Linked DNA regions of Homo sapiens: region 2 is linked to region 1. The links come from fine-mapping of genetic effects on gene expression. A gene starts in region 1. The other region holds a variant in brackets. All regions are shown on one strand. Distances are from middle to middle.

Region 1 (5,376 bases):
GCTGAGGCAGAAGAATGGCATGAACCCGGGAGGCGGAGCTTGCAGTGAGCCGAGATCATGCCACTGCACTCCAGCCTGGGCAACAGAGCAAGACTCTGTCTCAAAAAAAAAAAATAATAAAAAAAATAAAGATTAAAAAGCCAGCCCAGGTAGTGGCTCACACCTGTAATCCCAGCACTTTGGGAGGCAGAGGCGGGCGGATCACTTAAGTCTAGGCATTTGAGATCAGCCTGGCAACATGGCAAAACCCCTTCTCTACAAAAAAAAAAAAATTAGTCGGGCATGATGGTGCAAGCCTGTAGTCTCAGCTACTCTGGAGGCTGAAGTGGGAGGATCACTTGAGCCCAACAGGTGGAGGGTACAGTAAGCCAAGATCTCACCACGGCACTCCAGCCTGGGCAAAAGAGTGAGACCCTGTCTCAAAAACAAAACAAATCAAACAAACAAAAAAATTAGCCAGTCATGATAGTGCCAGCCTGTACTCCCAGTTACTCCAGGTTGAGGCTGAGGCTGCAGTGAGCTGTGACAGTGCCACTTACTCTGGGCTAGGTGGAAATGCGAGACCTTGTCTCAAAAATTAAATTAATAAATAAAAATGTACAACATGCTTTGAAAACTGCAGAAAAACGGACCCTTCCTTTCTTGAGAGTTTCTACACTCTTCCTCCTGGATAAAAATAGCAGAGAATTAGCTACTCCCACATTGGCTCACCACTATCCCATCCCTCACTTTACCCAAGTAACACCAAAAGCTTGATTATCAAGTTAGAACAGGTGACGACTGAGAAACACACAAGAAGAACAATAACAGAGTTATTCACCTTTTAGGGTCGCAGTTTTCACCCTCGTGGTAACTAAATTATTCAGATGATTACCAAGATCATTTTGTTTCTAAAAGCTCATATGCAAGTTTAAGCCTCCTCCCCACTTTAGGAGGACTGGACTTCAGCTTAAAATTTGGACCCCACTACATGCCAGGCAGGCATTGTGCTAGGAGGGCTGGGAAAACAGCCATGAACAACAACAACAAAAAATGCTCCCAATCCAACAGGAATATGCCAGAAGAGCAAGAATAATTCTAAAAGAACAGGTAAAGCTTCCTGAAGGGCTAGCATTCTGGTTTTGCTTTGAATTACTAGTATAAGTCATAGTAAAGAACATACTCAAAAATTACAAATTTTTTTAAAAGCCTTCAACCAGGGAGCACACAGAACAGAAACTTCAGGACCTAAAGCAGGCCGATTCCTAACCCCGGGAGCTACGGACGAGATCAACTTCATCAATAAAGAAGTCCAGCAGCGCCAGCCGCCGTGTCTGGCTGGGCTCCTTGCGCTAAAGTAGTCCAGACCAGGAGGGAAAAATGTAAAACCAACATGGAGGAGGGGCTACTGACGAGTCGGTTCGGGAGCTAAAACCTCGTGGCTCTTTCCTCATGGCGCCAACCAGCCTTCCTGCTCTGCTCTCCCCAGCCGGGAGAAGCATCATCCTGCCTCTCCAAACCAGCACCCAGCACCCAGCTCTCAGGATCCCTTGAGGAACCCGTGCTCCAAATGAAGTTGGAGGGTGTTAAACGGTGGGAAAAACAAGTAGCCACATCTTAAAGGCTGTTAGGGGAGCAAAGAAAGAACCATCTGGGAGGACTCCACCCTTCTCCACCTGCAGAAAAAACCCCGGGTAAAGCTAGGAAGTCATTTCCCTTGTCTCTCCTTGCCTTGCGGATAAAACAAAGGAAACAGGCTCCTAAGAGGGTCAGACACCCATACGATGACCCCCTTCCGTGGATCCAAGACGCGTACGTCCTGGACACCGAAGAGCTTGGAGCCAGTACAACTTTCTCATTGAAGCCGACCACGTTTCCTCTTATAACCTTAAAAAACAGAAGCCCCTACTATTATCGTTTCATTGATGTCACGGCACCTATTTGGCTCTCAGACTTTTACCCGGAAACCCCTGTAATCCCCAGCCCTTGCGTGCAGCCCCACACTGGGCTCCCCTTCCCCGGGATGCCGCCTCGCGCGTTCCCGCCACCCTCGCCCTCTCGGCCGCGCTTCCCGGCTCGCTCCGCCCTCGGCACCAGGCTGCGCCGCGGGGCGAGCACGTCTGTGCCAGACCGGGGCTTGAGGGAGTCCATCGGGGGTTAGTGGGGGATCCTGCGGAAAGCCCTCTCCCCCGACACTGGAGTTGCAAAACAATAAGCATCCGCTTCCCTGCCCTTCCCCCATAGGACCCCGGCCACGAGTTATTAACGCGGGGGGAGAAAAGCCGGAGGAGCACTCCCGCCCTGCGATCGTGGCCGCGTACCCCCGGAACCCCCAAGGCCCGAGTCTTCGCCTGCCCCCGCCGCAGCGCCCCCAGGCCGCGCGGGGCGCACTCGGCGCTGGAGCGCGGCCGGGAGCGGAGGCGCGCGGGCCACGCGGTGGCTGCCGCAACTGACACGGCCCGCGGCCGCCGGCCACATGCGCCGCCCAGGGACAGAAGCCGGGAAGGGAGCGCGGCTCCGGGCCCCGCCGTACCTTGCCGCTAGCTGTTCCCCCGCTGACGCCTATAAGGAAGGGCTCGCCGCCGTTGGGCTGCTGGTGGTTCTGCAGGGTCTGCTCGCTGTCCCCGGCCATGGTTCGCGCCGCCCCTCCTCCCGCTGCCTGTGCGAACGGACGCACGCTCCCCGCCCGCGCCCGCGTCGGACTCCCTCCGCTTTCCGCAGCCGCCGCTGGGCGCTGCCGGGGCTGAGGCCGCTGTCGCTCGCCTGCGAGCCGCTCGGAGCCCGGTGACGGGGCTGGGTTTCCCGAAGGAGCCAAGAGCCTTCCTTTGCCCGCAGCGGCTGGTCCGGTTTACATCCCAGGCAGAGGTCAGCGTGATGCTGCTGCTCCAATCCGGGCGGGCAGCGCGCTGCTATTCGCCGAGGCGGAGGCGGCGAGGCGTCTGGCCCCAGCCTCCGCCCCTCCCGGGCCCCGCCGCCGCCCGAGGTCTCTGCGAAAGGTGTGAGCCCGACCTTCCCTCCCACCCGCCCGGTTAACCCTTTCTCCGACGCGCCCTAGTGGACCCTGGGGGAAAGAAACAGGCTGTTCTGTATTTTAATTTGGTATGCTACCACCTATTTTCAGAAGGGATAAAAAGCTTGAAGGAAATAATAGGCAGATTAGATAAGAAGGAATGGCCCAGGTTTGAGAAGCAAAATTTGAACAAGCTTGAAAGATTAGTGTGGAACGAAGAGTTAATGTCATTTACCCATTATCCAGGCTAAAAACTTGTGTTTCCAAAAAATGAGGGTTCTTTTTCCCTTCTCCCGTTCGCCAAGATAATATGTCAGCCGCTGGCTTTAGATATTTCCTGTCTTGGAAACCCCCCAGCGCCATCCTTTTTAGCAGGCCTGTCCTCGTGCGACTCTCTAGTGAAGGGCAATTTGAGGGGCTTATCTGAAGGGTGCCCTCCGTTGGAAAAGCAATTCCCTTCTAAACCACAGTATCTCATCCCATACACTGAGCTTCCTATGGAGTTAGGGTATCTGAAAACATACTGACATTTTGATCCATTAATATCTTCAATTGAACGGTTTTCCAGAGATTGGCAATCAGTCACTTAGAAAGGCAGTTTCAGACTCCACCTCTGGAGCCAGATTTCTGCATTCACATCCAGGTCCCTGAGCAAGTTACTTAATCTCTCTGTGCTTCAGTGTTCTTATCTGTTAAATGGGAATAATAATGGCAATTACATCCCAGGATTTTTGTGAGAATTAAATGAATTAGTGTATGTAAAGTTCTCAGAACAGTGCTGGTACAGTCTAGGCCCTGTATTAGTGTTTGAAGAGAAAAGGTTTCTAAAGCGCTGAAACTGGAAAGAAAAGTTTTGCTGGGACACACCTGAGAGAGGCAGGACTAGCCTAGTAACTTCCAGTCTCTTCTCCTGTGAACTTGGGACTAGTATCAATGAGCTGATGGGGCCTACAATCTAAAACAGAATTTACGTCAATAGCATTATCTTTTGAAACTTAGTAAATTACCTTAAATTGAAGATTATTTTGAAAAAAATAATTTTCTCTCAAGCCAGGGAAATCGAGGCTGCAGTGAGCCATGATCTCCCCACTGCACTCCAGCCTGGTCAGCAGAGCCAGAGCCTGTGTCAAAAAACAAAAACAAAAACAAAACAAAACAAAAAAAAGGATACCAGAGAAAACAAACTTTTTTCACTTTTAAATTAAAGTTGACACTTGAACAACACTGGTTCAAACTGTGAGGTTCACTTTTATGCAGCTTTTTTTTTAAACCAAGGGCAGATGGAAAACACAATATTTGTGCAGTTTCCTCAGGACTGACTGTGGGACTTCATGTGTGGATTTGGTTACATGTAGGCTGTCCTGGGACCAGTCCCTCCGCATATATCTAGGAATTACTGTATTTTATGTCACCATCTAACATCAAACTCGGTAGCAGCTCAGACAGGAGACAAAGATGGGGAGAGTGGCCACTACCTGGTACCCAGAAGCAGGCATTTGGGTGAAGTTTCCTAAAGGGGTGCCTTACCAAATAGCTATGGAGTGGGTGAGTTTTAGGTGGTCCTAGAGTTAGCCTCTTCTCCAAAAGGTCTTTTCTCTACTAGATAGATTTATTAGTCATCATGGACTTTTGTAGAACTCTTTATAGCCCATTGGAATTTGGAAGTTGAACCTACAGCTAAGGGTTAGCATGGGGATATTAGGTAGTTAAGGAGAAGAGGAGGAGGATAAAGGAATGCCAAAGGCCAGTGGGGTGGCTCATGCCTGTAATCCCAACATTTTGGGAGGCAGAAGAGTGAGGATCACTTGAGGCTAGGAGTTTGAGACCAGCCTGGGCAACATAATGAGACCCCCATCTCCACAAAAAGTACAAAAATTAACTGGGCATGGTAGTGCACACCTGTAGTCCCAGCTACACCAGAGGCTGAGGCAGGAGGATCACTTGAGCCCAGGAGTTCGAGGTTGCAGCTGTGATCATGCCATTGCACTCCTCTATCGACTTGTCTCTTAAAAAAAAAAAAAGAATGCCATGTCTTTCATAAACTTTTCTCAAATCTGCATCTTCCTTGTCATTCCTATAGTGTTTATTCCATAATATTTTATCATAAAAATTTTCGAGCACAGTTGAAAGATTTTACAGCAAACACCAGTATACCCACCACCTAGACTCTATCACTAACATCGTACTATATATATACTTGCTTTAAAACATAACTGGTCATCTACCCATCCCTCTATCCATCAAGGCATTTTTATTATAGGACTTACTTCCTTTTGCTTTGTTAATTTTAATTGACTTACTCCACACTGGCTTATACATTTCTTGTTTGGTTTGTTTTGTTTTGTTTTTAATTACTATATCCCCAACGCCTGGAACGGTTCTGGCAC
Region 2 (5,376 bases), 76 kb before region 1:
GTAGCAACCAGCTCCCTTTAGAAAGGGCTACCGTGATGGCAGGTCATTCTAAATTAGATCAAGGAGGGAATCTGCTTTTGCTAAAAGGTGGCCTCAGAAGCAAAGTACCCAAGTGTCATCATTGGGAAGTGATAGTAAAAGGTAATCTACAGCCCTCTATTCTGCCAGAGAAGCACAAGTGCATGTCTGTCCCCGTAACACATGGGTGCCTACACCCAGGGACCTGTTCCTGAGGCCAGACGTGTAGGTGGAAAGGTTCTGCTGGCTCACAATCACAGACAAGCAGGGCAGCCATGTCTGCAGAGCCCTGTAGGGTCACCACATCCTGCCCCAAATTATGACTGACAAAGGGCAGACATTATACTCCAGGATGACACTCTGCAGGGACTCACCCAGATTATCTGCACCTCTAGGGATGATCACATCAGCATACTTCTTTGTCTGTGGAGAAAGACAGTTAATATGCATTAATACAGTTAAGAGACAACTGGCCCGAGACCCTCTCCAAGGGAATATGGGGAAAGGGCAGCATTCATACTAGCGAGCCCAGAAGAGCACCTTTTAAGGCTTCAAATATAATATTGTTTACAACTTCACAGTGAATGCATCTATTAATAGAAATTTGGGGAAACCTAAGGAAGTGCCTTGTTTAGCTGAAATGTGAATGAAAGAAGATAAGCAGGGAATGAGGAAAATGAGAAAGAAGGATTGAAGACTTTCATGCATCAGTGAGGGAAAATGGTCCAGACTGAGTGGTTAATCCAAAACCAGTTCATAATTCGATTGATAACTATCTACCATGGATTTTTATCCACTTTATCTACATTACAAGAATTTAGCTTTTATTCAAATTCTCTCTCACTCTCTCTTTTTTTTTTAAGACAGCGTCTCACTCTGTCACCCAGGCTGGAGTGCAGCGGCATCATCACAGCTCACTGCAGCCTTGACTTCCTGAGTTGGGGAGATCATCCCACCTCAGCCTCCTGAGTAGCTGGGACTACAGGCACCCGCCACCACACCCAGCTAATTTTTGTTATTTTTTATAGAGAGGGGGTATCGCCATGTTGCCCAGGCTGGTCTCAAACTCCTGGGCTCAAGCGATCCACCCACCTGGGCCTCCCAAAGTCCCAGGATTACAGGCGTGAGCCACTGCACCCAACCAAGTTCTCATTTCTAACGCTGAACACTGTTTCAGCTTATGACCTATGCAGAGAACATGGTCTTTGAAGCCAAACACTTAATTGCCTCTATTCCACTAGGACAAATATGAACTAGAAAAACCCAAACTTTCCAGGGGACTGGTTCACCTTGGACTTTTACACATAGTCTGAAACATGACACTGTTCACTCCTAGCACAGGGTAAAACCAGAAAAAGTATTCTTCACTGATGACCAGTTCATAGGTTCTATTATTACCCAATTTTTAAAGAAAGAAAGTCAGGCCACAAAGAGGCATATTTCTTTTTTCTTTTTCTTTTTTGTTGGTCCAAATTTACTGAGATTTTGTAGACCATTCTACAAGTAACTGCATCCTGGCATACAAACTAAGTCTAGCATAAGAACACATAAACCACACCTCAAGCATGTGGGCATCTTACTCTGTGCAGCCTCTGCCCTAGGATTGCTGAAAGGCAACGGTGTCAGCCCCAAACCCAACTTGAACTGAGCAGACATTTATCAGGTCCAAGTTCCTGGCTTACAGGGGAATGAGCTGATCTTCCCTGAGCAAAGAGTGGCTGGACAGTGGAAGCAAGCAGAAATAACCCAGAAAACGTCTGCAGAATTTTTAGCTTTGTTACAACTAAGTTAAACGTAGAAAACTGACAGTTAAATATGACTGATATCCAATAATAAATTCATTTTGTGTTCTTATTAAGTCAAAAATAACAGGAGAGGTCCTCAGATAGATAACTGGGTGGAAAGAAGTTCACAGCTCCTCAGCCCCCTCTGGTCTCTTTCCAGTAACCTACTCTTGTAACTCAATAGTCTCCAGGGCAATGGATAGGGCATCAATGTTACTCAGTTGGCTCAAAAAGTCCACCTGTCCCGCATTTAAACCAAAGTCAAGTATGGGTTGCTGTAAAAGCTAGTAACATCCTTAAAGAAACAAAGACAGTTTGAGATATTTTCCCAGAAGAAAAAGAATGAAGTTTATTGTTAGAATAAATAGGGAAATTCCAATACCCAGCCTTACTCTAAATCTTCAATGTCTTCAGAGATTCCAGCCTTCCCAGTGTATCTCAACCAAGACCAGGTTAAGTCCCAAGCTCTTCCTTCCCTTCCTCCCGGTCTCAGAGCTTAACTATAAATAATTCAGGAGCCAGACCATGGTTTGGCCAAGCTGGAGAAGACTCATTGACTCAGTAGGATTCTCCTGAGTTAAATACTTCTCCTTCTGCAGCCCCAGCACACCACACCTCTTGTCTCTGGTAGCCTTCCCTCAACATGCCCCTTCCTGTCTTTCCTGGGCTGAGGGCCAACTCTCTGTGTTCTTCCTTCTCTGAAAGCCACCTCACTAGAGAATTCCTAGCTGCCACAGGAAGGACTGGTGAGTCTGCAAGGGTGAAGGGAAGGAAGCTTATTCCAGTAAGGCATGACAGTCTCCAAATGGGAGCTAAAGACAAGCTCAAAGCAGGGCTCAGTGGTGATGGCAGGAGAGGCTCAGAGGGGAACATCTCGGGGCACAGCACCCA[G/T]TGCATCCATACGTCACCCATTGCAGACCCTTCAGAGATCCAAATGGCTGAGGACTCTCCTTGGATATGATACACCCTCAGTAAACGGTCTCACACCATGACCCCACCAAGCAAGAAACCTAGAACTAGCTGGGAATTAAATGACCTGCCTAAGGACTGGCAGGACCCTACAGGGCTACCCAAAGAAAGAACAGCAGGACAGGGCTCCTGGAGAACACAGAGGACACAAGGACCAAGGGCTGCCCTCTCTTAGGACTTCAGGACAGAGGATCACTCAGAGAGAGGAGTGAGATTCAGGCAGGGGAGCTCCACAAACTTGCACACCTTCGTTTATATCATCAAATTTTAAATTCTACATTCAACAAAAACAAACCAAGAACACAACTCACTGGCAAGCAGAATTCCTCAAAGGCAGGCTTGACGAACGTAATGTACTGAGATAAAATCTGCTCAAGATCCCTGCCTCTCTCGCTGATGTCCCTTAATACTGTAAGAGAAGGGAAAACAAGAATCAAAAAACGGTGTAGGAGCCAGCACACACCCGCCCTTCATGGGGTGGACCTAGCTCCCACAGGCTCCACAATTACTCTAGATGATTCTCAAGCTGGAATCCTGAGAGGCTTGACCAAGAGCAGATCAGCAGCGGCTTCGGAAAAGACAAGTTACATTCTGACATCTTACAATGGTCAAACTTGGCAATGACACAATGCTCTTTGAAACAAAAGGCTGTCCATGGAGGCCAACAGCCTTCTTGTTTCAAGCAACATTTGCTCCAAACAAAATTTCAGTGTGAATTTTTTAAAAAAGCAGGGCACTCCTGGAGAGCTCACTGTTAACAAGAAGCAATCTGGGCCCCGAGAGGGCTGGGCTGCACGCTGCCTCCTTGCATGCACTTACCTGCGTTCAGAAGTCCAGCGACCCACTGATCAGGCATCAGCTCACTGCTCCCAGCTCCCACCCATGCCCCCTCTGCAGCATGGAGCCCAGGCCAGGCTGAGGACCCAGCCATGGTTAACCATTTCCACCTACCTCATGCACAGAGGTTTGCCAAAAAAAAAAAAAAAAAAAAAAAAAAATCACTCAGTGAAAGATAAGAAAACCATGGCCTAGAGAATGGTGGGCTGGGGCTGAGATGAAGCCCAAATTGACAACAAACTCACCATCTTCTGTCTTCTACCTTCTTCCCCCGGTCAGTTTTATCCAGGGGCTTTTACCATTCTTTTTTTTTTTTCTTTAAAAAATTTTTTTTTCTTTTAATACAAGGTGTCTTGCTCTGTCACACAGGTTGTAGTGCAGTAGCACAGTCATAGCTCACTACAGCCTCAACCTCCTGGGCTTGAGCAAGTGATCCTCCCACCTCAACTTCCCAAGTAGCTGGGACTACAGGCACACACCACCTCAATGGACTAATTTTTTGTTTGTTTGTTTTTGAGACAGAGTCTCATCACTCTGTCACCCAGGCTGGAGTGCAGTGGCGCGATCTCAGCTCACTACAACCTCTGCCTCTGGGGTTCAAGCGATTCTCCTGCCTCAGCCTCCCGAGTAGCTGAGACTACAGGCACCTGCCACCACGCCTGGCTAATTTTTTGTATTTTTAGTAGAGATGGGGGTTTCACCGTGTTAGCCAGGATGGTCTCGATCTCCTGACTTCCTGATCCACCCGCCTCAGCCTCCCAAAGTGCTGGGAATTACAGGTGTGAGCCTTTTTTTTTTTTTTTTTTGGTAGACACGGGGTCTTGCTTTGTTGCCCAGGCTAGTCTTGAATTCTTGGGCTCAAGTGATCCTTCTGCCTCGGCCTCCCAAAGTGCTGGAATTATAGGCAGCCCATACACTCTTTATTAAATAGAGTCTTCTGTCAATAAATAGAAAGAAGACTGATCACCCTCATTCTGCCGCTGTACATGAGCCTTAGTTTCCCCATGAGTAGGGAGTTTGGAAGTAGATTCTCTTAATTAAAACTGCCTCTCTTTGCAGATGTCATTTTAAATGCTATCTTAATCTAACCTTATCATCTGAGCTGCTAAATCTTTCACCCCAAAAAGTTACCACATCCATCTACAATCATTTGCAGTGGCTCTTCAGCTCCTTCCCAACCATTTCTCAGTAAATAGACTCAAATGTTGGGTGAAACTCACTGTAAACGAACATGGGGTATATCTGTGACGGAACTTCTGAAAGCCATTTGTCTAAATAATTCTGTCTTTATACACACATGCACAGGTGCATGCACAGAGAGGCCAGGGAACGGGGAGGCTGTCATGGCTATGATCCAGGCTGACAGGAAATCTATAAGATGAGAAGGTGAGAAAACTGTCAGGAAATCCACATTTCCAGAAAGCTGGGCACTAATGATGCTGCCATTCGACTTTTGTAACAGCTCCTCGATTTACGAAGTGTTTTCTCCATGGGAGACCTGGTAATAAAACAGTTGGCTGATCGCTAATGTGTCAGGACTTGCCCACCCAGCCCAGCAGCAGCCTTCTCCAGCCAGGAAATGGTTTTCCCCACCCCTGCAACGCTGGACCTGGGCTCCTGCTGCCGACCTGCTGCTCTGGCAGATCTGCTGGGAGACTCGCTAAGAAGGAGCCCTAAGGAGCTGCCACGTGGCTCACCCCCCAGAAGTCCCCAGAGCTCCGGCACACATGGCTAACCAGAGTAGCACCGCCAAAACACACAGCCAGCG

Which allele goes with the higher level. Alleles are on the strand shown, and positions count from the first base shown. SD is a standard deviation of normalised expression in the study named.
With allele T in place of G in region 2, the expression in cerebellar hemisphere of the gene that starts at base 2,831 in region 1 is higher (moderate effect, 0.74 SD a copy in GTEx).

The links. PIP is the estimated chance that this variant, and not a neighbour inherited with it, causes the effect.
Region 2: its variant is fine-mapped to the expression of UCK2 in cerebellar hemisphere (GTEx, PIP above 0.99). The same link has a PIP of 0.9 or more in cerebellum.

The regions. Positions count from the first base shown.
Region 1 is chr1:165,825,069-165,830,444 of GRCh38, reverse strand. UCK2 (uridine-cytidine kinase 2) reads right to left here and starts at 2,831. Exons shown (of 7, transcript NM_012474.5): 1 at 2,513-2,831. The coding sequence starts at 2,611. RefSeq lists silencers at 1,943-2,172, 2,233-2,712, 2,793-3,042 and an enhancer at 1,924-2,477.
Region 2 is chr1:165,900,986-165,906,361 of GRCh38, reverse strand. It overlaps UCK2 (uridine-cytidine kinase 2), which reads right to left. Exons shown (of 7, transcript NM_012474.5): 5 at 3,083-3,180; 6 at 393-441. Among named protein-coding and RNA genes, the nearest start is that of MIR3658, 4.2 kb to the left of the region's middle. RefSeq lists a silencer at 5,376. The variant G/T (reference allele first, on the strand shown) is at 2,694.